Homo sapiens: one gene and its partners. The protein of the gene in region 1 purifies or fractionates together with the protein of each later gene. This does not show direct contact. Each region holds a gene or a part of one and is shown in the gene's direction. Other genes may lie near its edges. The genes, in order: RPE, ALDH2, ALDH5A1, ALDOB, UPP1, TEC and IMPA2.

Region 1 (3,500 bases):
AACTGACAGATCAACTATGGTTTTTCAGACCTGGCTATTTTAATGACATTTAAAAAATATTAACTAAATGAGGCTGTCTCTTCAAGGAAAGATACCTTGTCAGTTTTTGTTCCCAAAATTAGAATTTTAAAAAACTTGTGTATCTTACCACTCTGGGTTTGATAGCGTCCCAACAGTTAACAAGCTTTTCTGATGAGATCTGTAGTTATTTTACCAAATGTGATTTTGGGGTACTATGGAATGAAATCTGTCACTATTTGTAAGATGTGTGTAACTCAGTAAATCAGTACTTAAAAGACCCATTCAAAATACAAGACAAACAATGGGTTTTAATGTAACAAAGAATGAAAAGCTCATTGATAGGGTTTACAGAGTGCACACTGCAGCTAACCTTTATAAAATTACCACCCAGCACATTTAAGATAGGCTAGGCTAAGCTATGATGTTTGGTGTGTTAGGTATATTAAATGCAGTTAGAGATAACAGTATTTTCAATTTAGATTGAGTTAATTGGGATGTAACCCCATTGTAAGTTACAGAACATCTGTATTACAACAGATTAGATACAGAACAGATGTGAGAATATAGGTGTCTTCTGTTAAGCCAGACACTGAAAACTTGCAAAAATGTAAAACAAATAATACCACTCTTAATTAATAGGTAATAGAGTTATCCTTTTTTTTTTTTTTTTTGAGACAGTCTTGCTCTGTCACCCAGGCTAGAGTGCAGTGGTGGCCTTCATACCTCACTGAAGCCTCAGTCTTGATGGGCTCCAGCAGTCCTCCCACCTCACCTCTCCCCTCCAGTAGCTGGGACTGCAGGGGCACACTACCATGCCTAGCTAATTATTCTGTTGTTGTTGAGAAGGAGTCTTACTATGTTGCCCAGGATGGTCTCAAACTGGGCTCAAGCCATCCTCCCTCCTCAGCCTCCTAAGATTATAGGTGTGAGCCACCAAACCCGCCAAAAATTACATGCTTTAAAATGTCTTAGTTTGAATTTCTCATACATTAAATATCTATAAATATAATCCATATCAACAGAAGTTTCTTGGGGTCTTTAATAATTTTTAAGAGTGTAAACTCCTGGGCTCAAGCAATCCACTTGCCTTGGCCTCCCAAAGTGCCAGGATTACAGGCTTGAGCCACCGCACCTAGCCATATATAGTGTTTTTTTAATGTAACTTAGAATTTAATAGACCTTAGATTCTTTTTAATCAGCATATTGTTGACCAAGTTTATGAATAATAGATTATGATTATAATAGATGATAGAATGATTGGGAATTGCTGATCTAATGTTAACTATGCACAGATTTGCTGAACCATTGACTCCCTGAACACCATAGAACTTCTCCATTGAGGGTTGCTAGTGGTTACTGGATGCTAGAGGTTGAGTAAGGATGACATAGCTAGCAGTCTGGTAACTTAAGGAATGAATAGAGTAGGTTTTTTTGTTTTTTGTTTTTTTTTTGAGATGGAGTCTCGCTCTGTCGCCCAGGCTGGAGTGCAGTGGAGCGATCTCGGCTGACTGCAAGCTCCGCCTCCTGGATTCACGCTGTTCTGCCTCAGCCTCTCGAGTAGCTGGGATTACAGGCGCCCGCCACCACGCCCAGCTAATTTTTTTGTATTTTTAGTAGAGATGGGGTTTCACCGTGTTAGCCAGGATGGTCTCGATCTCCTGACCTCGTGATCCACCCGCCTTGGCCTCCCAAAGTGCTGGGGTTACAGGCGTGAGCCACCGCGCCCGGCCTGGAGTAGGTATTTTAAACCGGCTTGAATTTTCCTTGTTTATGATGCAAAGAATAAGAAACACCAGATTTAATACATTTTTTTAAGAATAAAGTTTTACCTATTAAAATATGTTCTAATTTAGGCCGGGTGTGGTGGCCCATACCTATAATCCCTGCACTTCGGGAAGCCAGCGTCAGAGGATCACTTGTGGCCAGAAGTTCGAGACCAGCCTGGGAAACAGTGAGAACTCATCTCTATTAAAAAAAAAAAAGTTCTCATACAATTACTTTTGCTGGATTAGAAATACAAACGTTAATCTTGACTTTATTAGTCAAGCTTTATACTTTCTTTTTCTGACTTTTTTTTTTCAAGGCTTTATTGTATTTCATAATTGTTCTGAAATGTTAGAATTTTTTTCTTAAATATAGCTTGGCTGTTTCAGAAATGTGCTTCCTCTAGCAAAATAAAAAACTTAAAACCTCTCCTCACTACCATCTATCAAACACAGGATTCTTCACAGTGTTATTTCTTGGTTTAGCTTGTTTTAAGCTGCCCTCTCCTTCTTATGAAATGCTATTATGTTTTAAATCAAGATCTTTAAGAAGGCCATGCCCATTTTCACCTTATGTGTTTATATGAATCAAGCTTTAGAATTAGGATGAATATCAGGTTTCTTGCAGTCAACATGTCCTTCCCCCTAAATTTGTTCTTGCAGTCTTGCCTCTCAATTAATGGCAGTTCCGTTCTTCTAGTTGATAAGGTCAAAATCCTTGATGCCATCTTTATTTTCCTCTCATCTATCTATCCATGGAGGATCCTCTTATCCTCCACATCTCATCTATCCTCAGCTCTCTTTGCTCTTATTTAAGAACATATCCATCCCGAATTGCTGCCATCATTTTTCACCTGGGTTATTGCTATCGTAGCTTCCTCAGTCGATAGTATCTTGTCACTTCACTGTGGTGGTTTTTCCCAGTGGCCTGCAGAATGCTGAAGGGTTTCTCCTCACCACATGCTTCCCTGACCTCTGACTGGTGTATCTCCTTCCCCAGGCACACCAGCCATATTAACTGCCAACCTAGTGTGCATTTTACTTACTTATTTTGTTTATTGTTTGACTCTCGCATTAAGAATGTAATCCCTATGACAGGAGAGTTTCATGTTTTTGCTCTAACCCTAGGACCTAGAATAATTAATGATGCAGCAATAGCTCGATAAATTGAAAGAATAAATGAAAAGGATCACTTAATTTTTCCTAGAGGAAACTAGTTTGCATGGATAGTATGACTTATTCTTTAAGTTTTTTAGAGTGGCATTTCCTGGACCTGGACCTAGATTTCCTGATTTTTAGATGTTAACTTTTTATATACAGCACTGTATGCTTTTTGTGGGAAAATAGTGTTTTTTGTAAATGAATTTAAATAAATCCTTGTCTTCAAAATAAGAGGAAACTACCTATACTGAATTAGAACTATTTAAATAATGATTTGTGTGATGGCCAAAGAGTTCTTATCAGAAGTGGCAAAAACTACATACAGGTTGGCTTCCAATAACATGAGCCAGGTATTTTTCAGTAATATTTTGAAGTGTCTTTTCTTTCTAGACATGCACATGATGGTGTCCAAGCCAGAACAGTGGGTAAAGCCAATGGCTGTAGCAGGAGCCAATCAGTACACCTTTCATCTCGAGGCTACTGAGAACCCAGGGGCTTTGATTAAAGACATTCGGGAGAATGGGATGAAGGTAAGAAATCGTGATGAGAGTGTTT
Region 2 (3,500 bases), on another chromosome or scaffold:
CAACTACTTGGGAGGTTAAGGCAGGAGGATCACTTGAGCCCAGGAGTTTGAGGCTGCAGTGAGCTGTGATCACACCACTGCACTCCAGCCTGGGTGCCAGAGAGAGACTCGGTCTCAAAAAACAAACAAAAACCCACTGTTGTTCTAAGTGAATGCTGTCAGGGGAGGGGCAAAGACACAGGGAACCCCAGCGAACAGACTCCTTCTCCGTCCCATTTAGAATTCCCATGTAGTGCCCCATACAATTAGCTTCTGACCACATGTGTCCTTGGCAGACTGTCCCACCCTCTCTGAGAAAGGATGTGTCTTCCCCTGGTTGAGCCCTTCAGAATAGGAGGGTGACTCCCAATGTCCCCTGGCTGTTTGCTCACAGGCTGGCTTTCCCCCTGGTGTGGTCAACATTGTGCCTGGATTTGGCCCCACGGCTGGGGCCGCCATTGCCTCCCATGAGGATGTGGACAAAGTGGCATTCACAGGCTCCACTGAGGTAAGGTGACCCTGGCCTCAAGCTTGCAGCCTCCTTGGCCCAAGCTCCCCCTGTCCTCAGTGGACGACATGCTCAAGGTGAGCTCCCGGGTGTCAAGCGGAGGCCTTTTCCTCCAGGACGACCCTGTAGGTACCAGGAGGGGTGGGGCAGGGTTGAGCCCTTCGTGGTCTGGTTGCCACACTAGCTGCCCTTGGGAGGGGCCAGTGTCCCATGTGGACTAAGGAGGCCAGGCCTGGCCAGACTCCACATAGCCCAGAGCTGACCGCTTGCCCCAAATCAAAGCATCTTGGCCAGGTCAGACTCCTTGACCAGGACTGCCATTGTGGTTAAAAATTAGCCTTGTGTGGTGGTGTGTGCGTGTGGCCCCAGCTACTTGGAAGGCCGAGGCAGGAGGGTTGCCAGAGCCTGAGAGGTCAAGGCTGCAGTGAGCTGAGATCACGCCACTGCACTCCAGCCTAGGTGACAGAGCGAGACCCTGTCCAAAAGAAAAAAAAAGTGAACGTCTATTTGGTGAAATTCTCTAGGTCTCTCGTGGTCCAGTTGCTCACTCAAGCTGTGGGGGACTCTGTTCTGTGTCTATAGAGTGCTGGACTCTTTTCTCCCGGCACTGAGAGCTTGTTCCTGTCTTTCTGTCCCCACAGATTGGCCGCGTAATCCAGGTTGCTGCTGGGAGCAGCAACCTCAAGAGAGTGACCTTGGAGCTGGGGGGGAAGAGCCCCAACATCATCATGTCAGATGCCGATAGTGAGTTTCCAGCTGGAGAAGGCCTGGCCTTGAAGGTAGCCCTGGCCACCTGTGTTGTGGCTCCAGCCGATCCTGTCGCCCCCCCAGTGCCCAATGGCGTTGGTTGCTGTCCCTCGGGCCTCAGGATAAGACGCCAGCGCAGGGCCTGCATGGCCTGGCCTTGGCCTGTCCCCAGCCTCTCCCTGGCTGCTCTCTGCATCATCAGGCTAGGCCACGCCCCTGCTATCTGACTCATCCACTTGCCGCCATCACGCCCTTTGTCCTGGTTGGCAGTGGGCTCCGAGAGCACCCCTCATCTCCCTGTATCTGTCTCTGGCACCCAGCAGGCATCAACCCTTACAGTGGTGGGAACAGGCTCCATTGGGCAGGCGGCCACCAGGGCCAGGGTCCTCCTCCTCACTGTCACCTTTCTGTCTCCTGCCCACTTCCCGCAGTGGATTGGGCCGTGGAACAGGCCCACTTCGCCCTGTTCTTCAACCAGGGCCAGTGCTGCTGTGCCGGCTCCCGGACCTTCGTGCAGGAGGACATCTATGATGAGTTTGTGGAGCGGAGCGTTGCCCGGGCCAAGTCTCGGGTGGTCGGGAACCCCTTTGATAGCAAGACCGAGCAGGGGCCGCAGGTGAGCCAGGCAGTGCCGCAGGGTCTGGGTGTCTAGAGCCAGCATGAGAAGCAGAGAGGGCATCGGGCTCAGATCAGTTGGGACTGGGTTCAGGTCTCAGCTCTACCACACAGCAGCTGTGTGCCTTTGGGAAGCTATGTTCCCTCCCTCAGCCTTCATTTCCCCATCCCGAGCCGTGCCCTGCCTCATTCACAGGGTGGCTGTGATGTAGAAATTAATCCTGGGAAGCACTTTGTAAATTGCATATATGTAACAAATACCAGGAGTGTCTGCAAAAGGGAGTGTGTGTTTCCAAGACCTTGGTCATCAGTAGAAGTGTATCCACCAGAAGATACACAGCTCTGTGAACCTTCGTGTCTGAGAGCCATGGTATGGCTAGTATAGGGACTTTATTTCACTTCATGTTTTGAGCTGTTTGATTTTATTTATTTATTTATTTACCTATTTATATTTTAGAGACAAGGTCTCTCTTTGTTGCCCAGGCTGGAGTGTAGTGGTGCAATCATACCTCACCTCAGCCTTGAATTCCTGGGCTCAAGGAGTCCTCCTGCTTTGGCCTCTCAAAGTGCTGGGATTACAGACATGAACCACCACACCTGGCCTGGATTTTACTTTTGAGCAGTTGTAGGTTTATAGAAAAATAGAGCTGAACGTACAGAGGGTGCCCATATATTCCTTCGCACCTCCCTGTTCCACCAGTTTCCCCTTTATTCACATCCTGCATGAGTGTGGTTCATCTGTTAGTATTGATGAGCCAATACTGGTACCTTATTATTCACTTAGGTCTGTAGTGTATATTCGGGTTTTTTTTTTTAATTTTTATTTTTTTTGGAGACAGAGTTTTGTTCTGTCACCCAGGCTGCAGTGCAGTGGCACGATCTCGACTCATGCCTCCCGGGTTCAAGCAATTCTTGTGCCTCAGCCTCCTGAGTAGCTGGGACTACAGGTGCGCACCACCACGCCTGGCTAATTTTTTGTGTTTTAGTAGAGACAGGGTTTCACTCTGTTGCCCAGGCTGGTCTCGAACTCCTGAGCTCGGGCAATCTGCTGTCAGGCACCCAGCCTCGGGGTCATTTTTTGTGTTGTACTTACTATGGGCCTAGACAAATGTATCATAATGTGTATGATACCATCATTCTAGTATCATATAAATATATTTGTGCCCTGAAACCCCCGTCCTCCACCTATTCTTCCCTCTTTTCCTCCCCTGAGCCCTGGCAGGCAACCACTGATTTTTTTTTTTTTTTTTTTTTTTGAGACAGAGTCTCGCTCCGTCACCAGGCTGGAGTGCAGTGGCGTGATCTCGGCTCACTGCAACCTGTACCTCCTGGGTTCAAGTGATTCTCCTGCCCCAGCCTCCTGAGTAGCTGGGACTTACAGGTGCATGCCACCATGCCCAGCTAATTTTTGTATTTTTAGTAGAGACAGGGTTTCACCACGTTGGCCAGGATGGTCTCGATCTCCTGACCTCGTGATCCACCCACCTCAGCCTTCCAAAGTGCTGGGATTACAGGCGTGAGCCATTGTGCCTGGCCGATCTTTTTATTGTCTCTATAGTTTTGCCTTTTCCAGATTGTCTTATACGAATCATACAGTAGGTAGCCTTCTCAGACTGGCTTCTTTCTTTTAGCAGTTTGCATTTCTGATTCC
Region 3 (3,500 bases), on another chromosome or scaffold:
ATGAAATCTCTTACTGGATATTTAAACTATAATAGCTATAGGTACCAAAAGCCTTATGATTATACATTGAGCTAGCAATTCTACATGTTCATCCTGACAGAATCATCACAGTGTTTTTGTCTTTTGTTTTGTTTTGTTTTTGAGATGGAGTCTCGCTCTGTAGCCCAGGCTGGAGTGCAGTGGCGCGATCCACAGCGTTTTTTTAATGGCAAGGATGGAAACAACCTAAATGTCCAACAGATGGGGCCTGAATAAATAAATTACAGAAGAGCCATGCAGTGGAATACTATGCAAGCATCTAAAGGAATGTTCTAGGCCGGGCACAGTGGCTCACACCTGTAATCCCAGCACTTTGGGAGGCTGAGGCAGACAGATCACTTGAGGTCAGGAGTTCAAGACCAGCCTGGCCAACATGACGAAACCCCATCTCTACTAAAAATACAAAAATTAGCCAGGTGTGGTGGCACATGTCTGTAATGCCAGCTACTCAAGAGGCTGAGGCTGAAGAATTGCTTGAACCCAGAAGGTGGAGGTTGCAGTAACTGGAGATTGCGCCACTGCACTACAGCCTGGGCAACAGAGCGAGACTCCATCTCAATAATAATAATAAATAAAGTTCTAGAAACATATGTGCTGACACAAGAGGATCTTCACATTAGAGTGTTACATTAAAGGAGCAAGATATAAAGGGTTATGAAAATTTTAAGATAGACGTCCCAAATATGTGATTCATTGGGAAGATAAAGCAGGTTACGAAACGGTATAATTATATAATTATACCATCCTGTTTTTTTTTTTTTAAATGTACATGTACCTGAATCTGCATGGCTACATTCTAAATGGATGTACTTTAAAATGTTATCAGTGTAAGCTGTGGGTTGTGGGATTCTAGGTGATTTTATTTTCTTATCTCTATGATTTTTAAGCCCATCATATAATTGTTTTGAATAGATAAACACTTACTTATATGGTTGAAAAATTAAGACAGTATTAATGTTTACCATGACAAGTCTCACCCTACCCCAACCCTGACTCACTCCCTCTTTCTATAAATAATGACTTTTAGTGTCTTGTCATCCCAGTGTTTATTTTACTAATTTATTTATTTATTTAATTTTTGAAATGGAGTCTCCCTATGCTGCCCAGGCTGGTCTGGAACCCCTGGCCTCAAGTAATCCTCCCACTTCAGCCTCTTAAGGTGCTGGGACTACAGGTGCACACTACCACACCCAGCCTCTTCCCAATGTTTCTTTATCAAATACAAGCAAATGTAAATATATATTCTTATTTCTCCGTTTTCTTATGCAAAGTTATCCCATGTACACCACTGTGCACCTTGCTTTTTTCACCATTTGGTAATTTTTTTAAACAAAGGCTTAACAATCCTGGTAATGGATTTCTGTGCTCACAGCTTTCTCTCCTCTGCTCACAGATCCTGTTGCACCACGCAGCAAACTCTGTGAAAAGGGTCTCTATGGAGCTGGGCGGCCTTGCTCCATTTATAGTATTTGACAGTGCCAACGTGGACCAGGCTGTAGCAGGGGCCATGGCATCTAAATTTAGGAACACTGGACAGGTGAGTCCTGGAGAGTATTTCAGGATGTGTGTTTGCGTGTGCATGTGTGAGTGTGTGTATGTGTGTGTGTGTGATATGTGTGCATGTGAGTGTGTGTGTGTGTGCGTGTGTGTGTGTTACAAAGATCCCACCACCTCTACTGCCTTATATCCCATAAGGAAACTTTTGGGTTCCTTCCATTATTCATTCTTTATTCATTGACTCTTTCAGCAAATATTTAGTATATGCCTTACTTTTTATTACCAGGGTTATACTAGGCTCAGAGGGGCCCCCCCAAAATAAGGTACAGTCCCTGGCTTCAAATAATTTTCTGAACAGCAGATGTCCTTTAGTCAAATTGTTCTCTGTTTTCTTCTTTCCCCTATCCTTTTAATCTGGTTATTTTTATAGTTTTCTTTCATTGATCTTTTTTCTACTGAACGGATATAATCTCCTCAGACACAGAACAGCCTTGAACAATTGGGGTCTCTGAGGCCAAGGGAAAGAAAGTAAGAAAATGTTGAGGAGGGTGGTGGCTGGAATAACTCAAAACCCTGTTGCCTGCTATGACCCAGTGGGGCCTCGCTGTCCCGAGATGGAGGGAGCCTCAGAGGTGCCCTCTACAGGGCACAGGCCCACGCCAGCAGTGTTTTAGAGGAGCATCCAGGCTGTCCTGGGAGACCAGAGGCCTGAGCTCATGTCTTCCTAGGAAATCCTGGAATATTTGATCTGTCAGGGACCTTCACAGTTATCAGCTCTACAAACGTTGCATTTTAGAGATGAGGAAATGAAACTCTAGAAAGAAAAAGTGACTTAGAGATCAGACGTCTTTGGGCCACAGTGTCAAATCTGCTGAGGAGCTGGGACTCTGAGCCAAGGCTCCTGTCTTCCAGTTCTATCCAAGCTGCTGCCAGGGTCCTGCCTTCTTAAATATTCTTAAGCATTCATCTTAAAAGTACCATCAATATGTAATTTTAAATGCATTCTAGAAACAGAGTAAATATCCCTGAAAGGTTATATTGTGAAAAAACTGAAATGTGTGATATTCTCTATCAAATAATTTTCATCCTTGCCTTGGCCTTTGGTAATTAAGTTTTTCCCTTCCACATAACCTAAATAAGCTTGGTTTTGTCTGAAATAAGTATATTTTCCTTCATAAATACAAAATGTCAATATATGTTACCATCAATTACACTGTAAGGCTACAACTTGGGGACAGGTATGGTGGCTCAGAACTGTAATCCCAGCATTTTGGGAGGCCAAAGCAGGAGGATCACTTGAGCCCAGGAGTTGGAGACCAGCCTGGGCAACAGAGTGAGACTCTGTCTCTACAATTTTTTTTTTTTTTTTTTTTTTTTTGTGTGACAGAGTCTCACTCTGTTGCCCAGGCTGAAGTGTAGTGGCATGATGTCAGCTCACTGCAACCTCCACCTCCCGGATTCAAGAGATTCTCCTGCCTCAGCCTCCTGAGTAGCTGGGACTACAGCTAATTTTTCTATTTTTAGTAGAGATGGGTTTCACTATGTTGGCCAGGCTAGTCTCGAACTCCTGACCTTAGGTGATCCACCCACCTCAGCCTCCCAAAGTGCTGGGGTTACAGGCATGAGCCACTGCGCCCAGCCAAAAAAAATTAAAAATTAGCTGGGCATGGTGGCAAGTGCCTATAGTCCCACCTACTTGGGAGGCTGAGGTGGAAGAATCACTTGAGCCCTGGAGGTCAAGGCTGCAGTGAACTCATCACTACTGCACTCCAGCCTGGGCGACAGAGCGAGACCCTGTGTCAGCAAAACAAAAGACTATAAGTTGGTGTTGGACCACATTCCTCTTAGCCTCTGCTGTTGCTGCAGCATCACAGTCTCCTAGGAGAATTGCACTCTTTCCCCACCCCCCAGGGAAACAAAATAAAAGCCATTTGAAAAAAACATGGATTGGGTGGCTTTTTTTT
Region 4 (3,500 bases), on another chromosome or scaffold:
GACGTGGAAAGATTGATCACCTGAGCCCTGGAGGTCGAAGCTGGAGTGAGCTATGGTCATACCACTGCACTCCAGCCTGGATGACCCTGTCTCAAAAAAAAAAAGAGTAAGATCCTGTCTAAAAAAAAAAAAAAAGAAAGAAAAAAGAAAAGAAAAAGTTTATATTGCGTAATTATTGTTAATGGTAACTATCATAATTATTGAAGCATTTACTATTCTATCTTATAACTAGGTCTTCCAATAGTGCATAAACTTCTCAAAAGTGAAAACTAGTATCCATTGAATAAGAGTTTTTACCATTCCAAGCATTCATTTAATTCTCATAACCTCTGGTAGTAGACTCAATTATTACCCTTATTTAGAGATGAAGTGAGAAAACTGAACTACGAAGAGTAACATAACTTGCCCACACAACAAGGCAAGGTCAGAGCCAGTTTAGGCTAATTCTCAAGCTCATGACTTTTGCCTTTGCTATGTAGAGAGTAGAGGTTGTATCCTTAATTCTCTTTACCTCCTGTACTAACACAACACCTGGTGCATGCAGGTGCTCAATAAATGTTAGGGTAGACACTCTCACAGTGTACCTTCTAGGTAACTTCCCTTCTGCTATGGACTGAACTGGGTCCCTCGCACTAATACACTTTACTAATTCAACTCCTTGATCTGTAAAAGATGCAAACTGTTAGTTAGTTCAAGAGTTCTGCTTGTGTTTTCCTGACATCTGACACCTGTTAATTATTTGTATCCACAGTTAGACCAAGGAGGTGCTCCTCTTGCAGGAACAAACAAAGAAACCACCATTCAAGGTAAGGATATTGCCCACTGAGATGAATCATGCCAGTGTAAGCTAGAAATGAAGGCAAGTAAAGAAGGAAGCAAGGAAAAACAAAACACAACTATTACACTGGTCTTAGAGCCACACGTACCTGGTTTTCAATACCAGCTCCTCCATTTAACAACTGTGACCTTGGGCCAGTCACTGAAATATTGTGAGCCTCAGTTCTCCTATCTCAAAATGGGGATTTCTCAAAATGTTGTGGGGATTAACTTAGACAATGTACATAAGGTGCTTACCACAGTACCTTGGACAAAGAAGATTAAACTCTGCACCCGGAAGTATTATTTTTAGAAAAAAATTAGCAGCAGTAGAGTGGAAAGTCCCCACACTTTGAGGTCAGACACACCTGGGTTTGAATCCTGGTTCTATCACATGCTACCTAGATAATTTTGCAAGGTACTTCTGCCCAAGTAGACAAGCATTAACTCACAACATTGGGTTAGCTAAGCAGAATTTGAATCCCAGCTCTGTCACTCTTGAGCAATTCAAACTTGGTAAAGTTGCTTAACCATTAGGAGCTTCAGTTTCCACCTTTGTAAAATGAGTATCATATTAACTATTGGTTTCTTCTATTCTATATATGGAGTAGATAGTATGTATGTCAAAACACTATTTATTAAATCTAAGTCTTCTGGTTCAGTGTTGTGATTAATGCTGATATGCTTGGCTGTTTTCAATCCTCAAGCACAGTGGATTGAAAGCTAAGCAAAGGGAGAACTCCTTCCCTTTATTAGAAGCCCCATGGATCAGGTACAAAGGTACAAAGAAGCCTTTCTCTCTTTTGTGACTTGCAGGGCTTGATGGCCTCTCAGAGCGCTGTGCTCAGTACAAGAAAGATGGTGTTGACTTTGGGAAGTGGCGTGCTGTGCTGAGGATTGCCGACCAGTGTCCATCCAGCCTCGCTATCCAGGAAAACGCCAACGCCCTGGCTCGCTACGCCAGCATCTGTCAGCAGGTGCTCTGCCTTCCCCTTGGGCTGAAAAAGAGTAGGCTAGAGTTTTCTTCAGAGCTTTTCTTTTCAATTATACTATAACTACAAATGGACCTCCTTTTCCCTCACCAGTATATCCTAGTGGCATTTTTCACAACTTTTGCTATAGCCAACTGTGGTAGGGAAAGATTTGGTCCCACAAGCCAGTAGGAGTCCAACTAAGCTATGAGTTCAAAGGATAATGCCATCAACTGCTGCCCTCTGTCAAAGCTCCATAAGCTGTCTTATAAGTGATCGGGCTTTTGAGGGCAGGGAACTTGGTTGTCTATACTCCGTAACATCCAAGACATGATCCTCTTAGATTCCTAGCTGAAGAGTGACAGCTCTGACCGAGTTCCAATCCAAATAATTCTTTGGAGGATGGTGACCAGATGCTAAAGTTTCCAACACATACTAAAATGTCTCTGGGTCCGAGTTAAGTTTGATTTTCTTCTGTGAGTACTATGTTGGGGTTACTAGAGTTGTGGACAGCTGGAGATCCCCAATTAGAACTCTAAACACTGCTTGAATTTCTTCATTAACCCAACTTAGAGACATCTTTCTTAATGATTTATGCTTAGATGCCCTAAAAAGGCAGTAGCTAGGTTCTGAGGCAGCTAGAATAATCTCTAGAAAGAAATACAGTAATTACGGGTTTGTATTTATTTTTTATCTCATTCTGAAAAATTCTACTGTCTTTAAGTCATCTATGTAGTATTTCTCCATAATGGCTTCAATTTATACCAATTGCAACTGTTGAATCTCCTCCTAAGGAAAGGATAACAGTGAGCACAGCTTCACTTTTGCTTCCTTGATTTTCCTTTTTAGAATGGACTGGTACCTATTGTTGAACCAGAGGTAATTCCTGATGGAGACCATGACCTGGAACACTGCCAGTATGTTACTGAGAAGGTAAGTTTTAAATATGAAGGCCCCAATTCTAGTTGAAAAATCTTAGTTTTAGGTAACAGCTGTTACTTAACATATAACAGCTGTTATATCTGAAGTAGCCTTTAGGATGGATAGCATAGAGAAGGTAGGGAGGTGCTCATCAGCCCTTCACCTTTTTGGCACATGGTATACTCCATATAGAAAAAGCACAGGAGTTGCAGTACCAAGACTTGGGTTGGAGAATCCGCTTTTCCACTTGTGGGATCTTGGGCAAGTCATATTATCTCTTTTGACTTCAATTCAATTACATGTACACAAAGAAATTTTAAAATAAGACATGTGGCTCAAATGAGAAGATGTAATTAGAAAGTACTTTATTCCATCTGACTTTCTAAATTAGCCACAGTGGATCTGAAAGAGGGTGGTTCTATTCATACACTGTGAGAAAGTAGGAGAGTCATAATGTCACCTGACCTTAGTTTCTCTACTTGGAAAATTATGTGGACTGAAATGCAATCTAAGAGCACTTCCACCTCTAAAATGTATGATTCTATGACTACTCAGCTTCTGTAAACATGGACAGTGGAGGCCCGTTTAGATGACCCCAAATAGCTAAAGCAATGCAGTCTCAATAAGGAATGACATTGACCAAGGGAGTAATGGAAATAAAGGAATGAAGGGCTTCTAGGAAGCAGAGCCATGCCTGTCATTCATGCAGTGAATGAGAAGCTAGATTAGGGGTGATGAAGACAGGCCAGTTTAGTTGTGCTCAGTGGCTATGGATTGCAACACATTGGTCTA
Region 5 (2,972 bases), on another chromosome or scaffold:
AAATATGGGACAAAGTACTTGAAGGTTCCTGGCCATTTTTATTTTATTCTTTTTTTTTTCTTTCGAAATGGAGTTTGCTCTTTTTGCCCATGCTGGAGTGCAGTGGCGTGATCTTGGCTCACTGCAACCTCTGCCTCCTGGGTTCAAGTGATTCTCCCGCCTCAGTCTCCCAAGTAGCTGGGATTACAGACACCCGGCACAATGCCTGGCTAATTTTTGTATTTTTAGTAGAGATGGGGTCTCACCATGTTGGCCAGGCTGGTCTTGAACTCCTGACCTCAGGTGATCTGCTCGTCTTGGCCTCCCAAAGTGCTTGGGATTACAGGCGTGGGCCACTGCACCCAGCCCTCTACTTTGTTTTTTGTGCCTTTCTCTTCCATAGTGTCCATAATGATCATGCATTAATTACTTTCATAGCTTAAAAAAAAGTTGAATGGGAAAAATGGGTCACTGTGTATTTGAGAACAGTACTGGATGCTTCGTGTTTGGATGTGTGGGTGGATCTGCTTCTTTCTTCCATATGCTCTGCTGTGTGCTCCCTGGCTGCCCTGCTTTAATTTTATTTTGTTTTACACCCTGCATATCTTGATGTCTGCTTTTTTCCTCAGGTCTGGAGCCCGGCACTGTGGTCATAACAGAGCAGGCAGTGGATACCTGCTTCAAGGCAGAGTTTGAGCAGATTGTCCTGGGGAAGCGGGTCATCCGGAAAACGGACCTTAACAAGAAGCTGGTGCAGGAGCTGTTGCTGTGTTCTGCAGAGCTGAGCGAGTTCACCACAGTGGTGGGGAACACCATGTGCACCTTGGACTTCTATGAAGGTGAGGCAGCGGATACGAGGAGGCATCTTTCAGCCAGGGAACCCTGGTCCGTCCCCTGAGCCTGCCTTCTCGCTGTGGACTGGCGTTTCCACTTGCCAGGCTGCTGTCTCAGTTACACTTCGCCCAGAGTGGTTATAATGACCCGTTTGAGTGGTCATTATAGGCAGGACCTGGATGGGTCTTGCTTGTCCCTGTGTCCTTCTGGGCATCAGTGGCGCTGATGTGTTGTAGGAGCTTCTCACATGCATGTGGTTCTCATGTCTCCATGTGTGCCTCAGGGCAAGGCCGTCTGGATGGGGCTCTCTGCTCCTACACGGAGAAGGACAAGCAGGCGTATCTGGAGGCAGCCTATGCAGCCGGCGTCCGCAATATCGAGATGGAGTCCTCGGTGTTTGCCGCCATGTGCAGCGCCTGCGGCCTCCAAGGTAAGCGGCACTTGATGGGCCTCGGCGTCCCCTCCTCCCTTCACTTCTGCTCTCCTGGAGCCCCTCGCTGGGGCCCCTCCTCCTGGGGCACCCCGATACCCATTTCTGGTTTCTGTTTCCGCTGCCCCCAAGTCACTTTCTGACATATGTGTTGTCACCACAATGCTGTTCAATGTCTGACTGTCACACCCTGACAAAATGCAGGATTCTCAGTGACCTTGTGCAGGAAAAATGACAAAAAAGCTTTTGCTGCCCCATGAGGCTGCCACCAGGTCTATAAAAAACTCGGCTTTCAAAGCGCTTTGGCTTTCTGAATTGTGGTTCATCTACCCTCAAGGTACTAGCCACCCTTGAAGGCCAGCTCACAGCTCTGCAGAATTCCCTTATCACCTCGGCCAAAACGTGCCTTTCAAGGTGGTGCTTGCAGCCCTGAGCTGGTCCTGGAATGGTGAATTCCTTTTGGAAGCAGGCACGAGAATAAGGGAGGGACAGGGCAGGGTGGTGTCAGAGAGGGAGGAGTCTTCCGAGCCCCTGGACCAGCGCCTTTCCCTCCCGCACTCCATCCTCCGGCCCCGCCTGACTGCATGGGCAGCCTGGTTTCCTGAGGAGGCAGAGAGGCTGCTCCTCAGAGCTCGTGGGTTCTTCATCCCGTCCCTGTGAAATGTTAGACCCCCGGCACCTTGCCTTGATGTGGTCTTTGTCCTTTGCAGCGGCCGTGGTGTGTGTCACCCTCCTGAACCGCCTGGAAGGGGACCAGATCAGCAGCCCTCGCAATGTGCTCAGCGAGTACCAGCAGAGGCCGCAGCGGCTGGTGAGCTACTTCATCAAGAAGAAACTGAGCAAGGCCTGAGCGCTGCCCTGCACCTCCGCAGACCTGCTGTGATGACTTGCCATTAAAAGCATTGTCCAAAATCCCCTGTTGTGTGGACTTTGAGCACACTTTACACAAGAATCTAGAAAATCAGATCGCGATTAAGAGACAGAGAATCTTGGATTAACCGCATGGGAGATGTTCTTCCTTTTGAAGTTTCATTGGAGCATTTTCAATGATGTTAGCCTGATTTGGGGTTTCTTCAAGAACATTCTACCAAATTTTTGTACTATTTCTAGGGAAATTTTTCAGACTTTAAAATTCTAATGGTAGTCAGATTTCATGTCACTAAACAAGAAATCTGACAATAGTGCCAGGAAACTAATTTCCTGATACATTAAAAAAATTCCATGCACCACTTGCAATGAGAGATGACTGAAAACCAATGAAGCAGACAGCAGGGGTGTTTGAGAAATAATGCGTACCTAAACAGGCATATACACAGTTTCCAAATTATAGTCACACACATTCCCAAAACCATCCACACCAGCTTAATCACACGACAGTAATCCTCCCACCCATTGTCCACAATGCTAGTGTCTTGATCCAAGTACCTAGGGATGGGAAACGGGACACCTGGGCTCAAGACAGCTTGTCCTATTGTTTCTGTCCATGGCTTGTCAGCCTTGCATTCATTCCTGGCCTCACACTGACATTCCTAGACTCCGTGTCTCTTAGCTTCCTTCTCGGTTGCACCTTATAGTGGAGGGGAGAATCCAGGGTGGCCCCTCTGTCTGTCTCGGGTGAGTCTGGCAGCAGCTACTTGGGCAGGCCTAGGTCCCCAGCTCAGGGGCAGCTGGGTCTTGGGTCTTCACTGGCTTGTGGGTTGCCCAGGCTCCTGGCTGACTTCTCAACTCT
Region 6 (3,500 bases), on another chromosome or scaffold:
GAGACAGAGTTTTGCTCTTGTTGCCCAGGCTGGAATGCAATGGCACGATCTTGGCTCACCACAACCTCTGCCTCCCGGGTTCAAGCGATTCTCCTGCCTCGGCTTCCTGAGTAGTTGGGATTACAGGCATGTGCCACCACGCCTAGCTAATTTTTGTATTTCTAGTAGAGATGGGGTTTCTCCATGTTAATCAGGCTGGTCTCAAACTCGTGACCTCAGGTGATCTACTTGCCTTGGGCTCCCAAAGTGCTGGGATTACAGGCGTGACCAAACATAACTTTTTATTTTCCTTGGAGTTAATAATGGATTTGTTTGTTCATTTTATTTATTTTGTGCTCTTCATTGATTAAACCCACAGCTCTTGGCCAGTTTTCCAAATTCTCCCTCAATTGACCAGGTATTTTGTCAATTTCGTTTTCCTCAAGAAGCTGTTCCTGAGCCTACTGGCTTGCTATAATCCAGACTGGGTGCCTTTGGTACATTGGCACACTTGTCACCCCAAGGGTTCCCTTTGTCATCATTCTGGAGATTCTCATCATTTGTCTCTTGTGTTGGATCTCCTGGTACTTGTAGCACATGTCTTCCTCAGTCTTGGTTGACTCCCTTCTTTTGGTAGAGCCCATCCTAAAGGAGCTTCCTGGAATAGGATGCCTAGAGGTCTACTTTTCTGAGACTGTAGATGCCTGAAAATGTGTTTTCAACTGACAATTGATAGTTTGACTGAGTGTAGATTTCTAAGATGGCAATTTTGAAGGCATTGTTCTATTGACTTCCACATTGTGGTATTGCTGTTGAGAAATTTAGAACTCTACTGATTCCTCAGCTTTTTCTTGTAATCTGTGTACAGGTTACAATTTGCTGGGTCCTCCCTGAAGTTTATAGAATTTTCTCTTGGCCTCCACAGTCCTAAAATTTCACGACACTGTGCCTAGGTTTGGGTCTGTTTTCATGCATTGTGTTGGGCTCTTTGAATCTGGAAACTTTCATTCTTCAGTTTGGGAAATTTTCTTAAATTATGTCATTGGTGGCCGGGCGCAGTGGCTCATGCCTATAATCCCAGCACTTTGGGAGGCCAAGGCAGGCCGATCACCTGAGGTCAGGAGTTCGAGACCAGTCTGGACAACATGGTGAAACCCCATCTCTGCTAAAAATACAAAAATTAGCTGGGCGTGGTGGCTCACCCCTGTAATCCCAGCTAGTCAGGAGGCTGAGGCAGGAGAATTGCTTGAACCCAGGAAGCGGAGGTTGCAGTGTGCTGAGATTGAGTCACTGTACTCCAACCTGGGAAACAGATTGAGACTTTGTCTCAAAAAAAAAAAAAAATATATATATATATATATACACACATATATACACACACGTATATATGTGTGTGTATATATGTATATATATACGTATATATGTGTGTGTGTATATATATGTGTGTGTATATATATACATATACACACACATATATATATATATCTATCTCATTGGTAATTTTTCCCCCTCTATTTTCTGTGTCTGTGAGAAGCTCATATTGTTCAGATATTGGCTATTTTTGACTGGGCCAAAAATAAGTTTTTCATGACTGTAATCATGAATATTTAAAATCAAAATCTCTATTTTTTTGGTTGCCTGAATATATACATATATATTTGTATGTGTGTGGTTTGTGTGTCTATTTCTTTCTGGTTTTTGTTTTATAGTGTCAGTGTCTTTTCCTTTCTCCCTAAGAAGCTTAATGATTTTTTGGAGCAACTTTTTTTCCTTCCTGCACAGATTGAATTTCCCAAGCGGCTTTTGTCTTTTCATTTGTTTAGGTTTCTTCTCTTTCATGTTAGAAGTTTTCCTTGTGTAACTAATGCCCTTGGTTATCTACTCACACTTCAGAGGGGGATTAAAAAGCAGAAGGTCTGGGGTTCAGGCAGGGTGGCTCACGCCTGTAATCCTAGCACTTTGGGAGGCCAAAGTGGGCGGAACACTTGAGGTCAGGAGTTCAAGACCAGCCTGGCCAACATGGTGAAACCCTCGTCTCTACTAAAAATAAAAAAAATTAGCCAGGCGTGGTGGCGTGTGCCTGTAATCCCAGCTACTCAGCAGGCTGAGGCAGGAGAATTGCTTGAACCTGAGAGGCTGAGGTTGTAGTGAGCCGATATGATGCCACTGCACTCCAGCCTGGCAACACAGGGAGACTCTGTCTCAAAAAAAAAAAAAATGCTGAAGATGTGGATGAGCTTGTCGACTGGGGAATTCATGGTAGGGGGAATCTGGCTGGGCTTTTTATTTGGGGAACCTCTGTGGTCGTTACCTCTTGGGCTGGTGAGAGTCCTCAGAGAAGCCTTTTCCATTCTTTTCCCCAGAGATTGACAGAGAGCCTGGTTGTCAGTAAGTGGAAAAGAAGACTGGAAGTCTCAGCATCCAGTATGTAGATGTGCATATAACCCCTCCATGCTGTTTGTGTACGGACCCCCTGAAGGGTGAAGGAGTAGGGAGGAAACTCCAGGTTTTTTGCTGGGGTAGAGAAGGGGCAGTCACCTAACTGGTTGGAGTGGCCAGAGGGATCTGTGGGATCCAGCTTTTTAAAAAGACTTTAAAAAGTCACTAATTTTTTAGCCCACCCCTCTTTTTATAGAGGGTTCAATTGCCTTTAATTATTTAACCTTTTGGAGATTCCATGGTGTAAATCAGATTATTTCTTGGCTTCTGCTTATTCCACCAAAATGTTTTTGCTATTGTCTCTTCACTCATTCTCTCCATCCTTGCTGATTTATACATGAAATAAAAAAATTTCTTTATTGTCATTGTCTTAGGCTTTCAGAAGGGAGAGAAAGTAGAGGTTTTTGTCCAGTCTGCTAATAGTGGCTAGAGTATAATTTCTTTACCAATCTCTATCCAGAGACTGGCACCATTCAGTCATAGCAGTGTGTTGCTGTTTTCCCCTTCCTCTACCCACAGGAAACATTTTCGGATCAGGCTGGGCCGCTGAGCCGAGTTTGGACCTCAGATGCCTTCATATACAACTCTAAGTGTACACTACCAATTGATCATAGTTGTCATAGGGGGCAAAACCTATATCTTAGGTTGGGTGGTACGTAGATTACTGGCATAGAGCCCTTGTTCCTGTTTCTTTCTTTCTTTCTTTTCTTTTTTTTGGCGGGGGTGGAGACAGTCTCGCTCTGTCACCCAGACTGGAGTGCAGTGGCATGATCTCAGCTCCTGGGTTCAAGTGATTCTCCTGCGTCAGCCTCCCGAGTAGCTGGGATTACAGGTGCACGCCACCACACCCAGCTAATTTTTGTATTTTTAGTAGAGACAGGGTTTCACCATGTTGGCCAGGCTGGCCTCGAACTCCTGGCCTCAGGTGATCTGCCTGCCTTGGCCTCCCAAAGTGCTGAGATTACAGGTGTGAGCCACCGCCTGGCCTATTGTTCCTGTTTCTTGAATTCACTTTGTGTAGGATGACTCTTTCTGCCATCTTGACCTCTGAATGTTTTACCTTTCAGTGAAGTGCAGCTTCT
Region 7 (3,500 bases), on another chromosome or scaffold:
TTTCTCAGTGGGAACATTTACAATCAGATTCGAGGGCATATCCCATTTCATGGGATAAAGTGAATTAGGGAAAATAAGCTTTTACTTTACACTGAAATCTCCTAAATTTGAATTCATGGGATTATACAGGGCACAGGTGTGTAACATGATCTTGTTTTGGGCCGTTCTTACAGAGGAAGTTTCATGCTCTTTTCAAAACCCCTGTGTTTTTCTTTTACTCGAAGAGAAGTTGTTTCACAGGTGCAACAAAATAATTTTGAAATAATTTCAAGTAATGGAGAAATAATTTTTCTTGTAAAAGAATAATGGTGGAGTCATTAAGGCTCACTAGAAACCCAGAGAGCCTAGGCTGTGATATTAGCTCTGAGGTCAATGATGCAAGAAGTCAGTGACCCACAGAGCCACACCTGCTGCCCCCGCCGCCCCCCCCCCCCCCCCCCACCCAATGGCAGGCTGAATACAGAGGGGACTCGAAGGAGTGGATAATTCCTTTGCCTGGGAGGAGGATGTTTGCATGTTTAACCCAAATCCCGTACTTTTATTTCAGATCATCAGAAAAGCCCTTACTGAGGAAAAACGTGTCTCAACAAAAACATCAGCTGCAGATCTTGTGACAGAAACAGATCACCTTGTGGAAGATTTAATTATTTCTGAGTTGCGAGAGAGGTTTCCTTCACACAGGTAGGTGTACTCCTCTGGGAAACACCCCCAGTAACCCTGGCCACACTCATAGAGAATGCAGGGTCTGCCGGGGTCAGGGGGCTCTGCTGTTTGTTGATGTGGCCAGACGTGAAGCCCTAAGCCACGCAGCCTAACCTGCGATTTGTCAGTTACTTAGTAAGCAAACTCAGCCCTGTTTTCATTCTTTTTACTGTCATCTTAACAACCATCACGTCAATGCATCCTCTTGTGAATATTGAAGCAGCTCTTTTTACAACACATGCTCAGGAAAAGCTCCTTGCACCCCTGTACTCAACCATTTGTTATTTCTGGAAGGACCCACTAGAAGTGTGACCCACCCTAAGAAGCCTGGAGTGGTGATGTCCCCTGGTGGCCTATGCCTGTTCAGCTGCCTGGGCAACTTTCCCAGGAGGATGGGATGCCAAGTGGCACTGGCAGCCGCGTGGGGCCCCCGGCCCACCACTAGTGCTTAGTGATGCACGCCCCCTCGCCCAGGCCAGAGGGCGCAGTGGGAATGGCTGCCACAGCCGGGCCCCAGAGCTGTCCCTGCAAGAGGCCTGTATGAGCACCTCTTAACCTTTTTGGGGTCACCCTTTGAGTATTTGATGCTAGCTATTAATCTTTTGTTCAGAAAAATTAAAATATTTACACAGCATTTTGCATAGCATTTTAAGGGAGCCATGAACCCCAGATTGAGACATCTTCTTTAACTCTGGGGGGCTCTAAGGCCCCTCTCTCACCTCTAGAGTTCTGCAGTATAAATGCTGAAGACCATGCAAGGGATCTTTTTTCTTCGTTACATAGAATCTTTTAAAGATGTTGGATTCTTAAAACTGGAATACCAGTTATTGGATTTCTGGCTGTAGGGTATTATAACTGTCAGGTTCCAGGTTTAGATGGACTTAGGTGGCAGAAATATAGATGGTACTCTCCCTCAGTGTCCATTCAGCACATGGTAGGCTTAAAATACTTTTCTTTACATTTATTTTTATATATTTTTTAAGAGATAGGGTCTTGCTCAGTTGCCCAGGTTGGAGTGCAGTGGCATGATCATAGCTCACTGCAGCCTTGAACTCCTGGGTTCCAGTGATCCTCCTGCTTCAGCCTCCTGAGTAGCTGGGATTACAGGAGCCACTCCACCTGGCTCTTTTTTTTTTTTTTTTTTTTCTGTGAATGATTATATAAATGAAAGAACAAGCGAGTGTTAAACACTTACCTTCTTTTTTTTTCCCGTCGTTTCCTTCTAACTTGTTAGGTTATCTCAAGGTTACCAGCTCTCCCTCTGAATTTCTGTTTGCCAGTCGCTCATGTTTGTTTTGTTGACAACCTTTGAGTTTAAGCTTCTCTAACTTCCTATTTCCCTACTCTGCTTGAGGTCAGGATCCCAAGAATTGGTTACAGTAGTTATAGGGTGTAAAGTGTTTGTGATTTTTTTTTTTTTTTTTTGAGATGGAGTCTTGCTCTGGCGTCCAGGCTGGAGTGCAGTGGCGTGATCTTGGCTCACTGCAAGCTCCACCTCCCGGGTTCACGCCATTCTCCTGCCTCAGCCTCCTGAGTAGCTGGGACTACAGGTGCCCGCCACCACGCCCAGCTAATTTTTTGTATTTTTAGTAGAGACGGAGTTTCACCTTGTTAGTCAGGATGGTCTCGATCTCCTGACCTCATGATCCGCCCGCCTCGGCCTCCCAAAGTGCTGGGATTACAGGTGTGATCCACTACGCCCGGCCCCAGTGTTTGTGATTTTTAAAAAGCCTTTTAAAACCTAATTTTAGGGTGGCTCACACCTGTAATCCCAGCACTTTGGGAGGCTGAGGCGGGCGGATCACGAGTGAGGAGTTCAAGACCAGCCTGAACAACATGGTGAAACCTCGTCCCTACTAAGAATGCAAACATTAGCCGGGTGTGGTGGCGTGGGCCTGTAATTCCAGCTACTCGGGAGGCTGAGGCAGGAGAATTGCTTGAACCTGGGAGGCGGAGGTTGCAGTGAGCCGAGGTCACACCACTGCACTCCAGCCTGTGTGACAGAGCAAGACTCTGTCTCGAAAAATAAATAAATAAACCTAATTTTAATCAAAGGGCAATAGCAAAAGAATTTATCATATGGATTCTTTGAGAGGAAGCATGCTGCAGTAACGAGCCGGCTGTTTCCAGGTCCTTTATTAACCATATTGGCCTAGAGGTTTCTGCGGTGATGATCCGTGTGGCCGTGGCATGGGAGGGCTGGCTCATCTGCGTGGGGTCTGGTAAAGGCTTGGAGGAGATGCAGGATCAGGCACAGTGAAGTTATTGGGGCTGTGATGTGTTTCAGTCAGGTCACTTGGACAAACTGCACTCTGAGATTGCACGCAACCCACTGTTGGGTTAATGTGTGCAGTTGGTTCCATTTGTAAAAGGTAAATTTAGATACTCGCTGTTGTGTACACAAGGTAAAAGTTAATGTATTATGGGGTGAGCACAGGTACCTCCCTCCACCCTTGAGGCCTTAGGGTTGCCAGGGACCGCCAGACTCCAGAGTTCCTTGGGAAAACCATGATGCAGAGCAGGGGATTATAGGTAGGGTGAGACAGGCTTACCTGGGAGCGTGCCCGGGCTGAACACCAGCCTCCATCTCTGAAAAGGCCCCCTGGTAGGGTCAGACCCACACACCTGTCCAGGAATCAGTGATTGAAATCTGGGGTTCCCAAGCTCTAGCCCACAAGTCAGTGGACTGTGGCTGCACCACGGACAGCCCCAGTCTGTGTGTCACCCCCATCTTCCCTAGCTCTGAGGGTGAATGTGTGGACACGGTGAAAGCAGCTGTTCTCTTCTCTGCTCAGTGT

The links.
Region 2: the proteins of RPE (region 1) and ALDH2 fractionate together in Homo sapiens (co-fractionation; one large-scale study listed by BioGRID). This does not show direct contact.
Region 3: the proteins of RPE (region 1) and ALDH5A1 fractionate together in Homo sapiens (co-fractionation; one large-scale study listed by BioGRID). This does not show direct contact.
Region 4: the proteins of RPE (region 1) and ALDOB fractionate together in Homo sapiens (co-fractionation; one large-scale study listed by BioGRID). This does not show direct contact.
Region 5: the proteins of RPE (region 1) and UPP1 fractionate together in Homo sapiens (co-fractionation; one large-scale study listed by BioGRID). This does not show direct contact.
Region 6: the proteins of RPE (region 1) and TEC fractionate together in Homo sapiens (co-fractionation; one large-scale study listed by BioGRID). This does not show direct contact.
Region 7: the proteins of RPE (region 1) and IMPA2 fractionate together in Homo sapiens (co-fractionation; one large-scale study listed by BioGRID). This does not show direct contact.

Annotation. Positions count from the first base shown.
Region 1 is NC_000002.12:210,012,638-210,016,137, forward strand, and holds part of RPE (ribulose-phosphate 3-epimerase), read left to right. Parts: intron 1-3,335; coding exon 3,336-3,475; intron 3,476-3,500. UniProt on the Homo sapiens protein: Catalyzes the reversible epimerization of D-ribulose 5-phosphate to D-xylulose 5-phosphate.
Region 2 is NC_000012.12:111,790,933-111,794,432, forward strand, and holds part of ALDH2 (aldehyde dehydrogenase, mitochondrial isoform 1 precursor), read left to right. Parts: intron 1-373; coding exon 374-487; intron 488-1,128; coding exon 1,129-1,231; intron 1,232-1,665; coding exon 1,666-1,850; intron 1,851-3,500. UniProt on the Homo sapiens protein: Required for clearance of cellular formaldehyde, a cytotoxic and carcinogenic metabolite that induces DNA damage.
Region 3 is NC_000006.12:24,518,969-24,522,468, forward strand, and holds part of ALDH5A1 (succinate-semialdehyde dehydrogenase, mitochondrial isoform 2 precursor), read left to right. Parts: intron 1-1,432; coding exon 1,433-1,576; intron 1,577-3,500. UniProt on the Homo sapiens protein: Catalyzes one step in the degradation of the inhibitory neurotransmitter gamma-aminobutyric acid (GABA).
Region 4 is NC_000009.12:101,425,775-101,429,274, reverse strand, and holds part of ALDOB (fructose-bisphosphate aldolase B), read left to right. Parts: intron 1-751; coding exon 752-806; intron 807-1,632; coding exon 1,633-1,793; intron 1,794-2,636; coding exon 2,637-2,720; intron 2,721-3,500. UniProt on the Homo sapiens protein: Catalyzes the aldol cleavage of fructose 1,6-biphosphate to form two triosephosphates dihydroxyacetone phosphate and D-glyceraldehyde 3-phosphate in glycolysis as well as the reverse stereospecific aldol addition reaction in gluconeogenesis.
Region 5 is NC_000007.14:48,106,265-48,109,236, forward strand, and holds the end of UPP1 (uridine phosphorylase 1), read left to right. Parts: intron 1-608; coding exon 609-818; intron 819-1,096; coding exon 1,097-1,243; intron 1,244-1,953; coding exon 1,954-2,093; 3' UTR 2,094-2,472; downstream 2,473-2,972. UniProt on the Homo sapiens protein: Catalyzes the reversible phosphorylytic cleavage of uridine to uracil and ribose-1-phosphate which can then be utilized as carbon and energy sources or in the rescue of pyrimidine bases for nucleotide synthesis.
Region 6 is NC_000004.12:48,263,339-48,266,838, reverse strand, and holds part of TEC (tyrosine-protein kinase Tec), read left to right. Parts: intron 1-3,500.
Region 7 is NC_000018.10:11,998,507-12,002,006, forward strand, and holds part of IMPA2 (inositol monophosphatase 2), read left to right. Parts: intron 1-547; coding exon 548-681; intron 682-3,500. UniProt on the Homo sapiens protein: Phosphatase that can use myo-inositol monophosphates, myo-inositol 1,4-diphosphate, scyllo-inositol-1,4-diphosphate, glucose-1-phosphate, beta-glycerophosphate and 2'-AMP as substrates in vitro.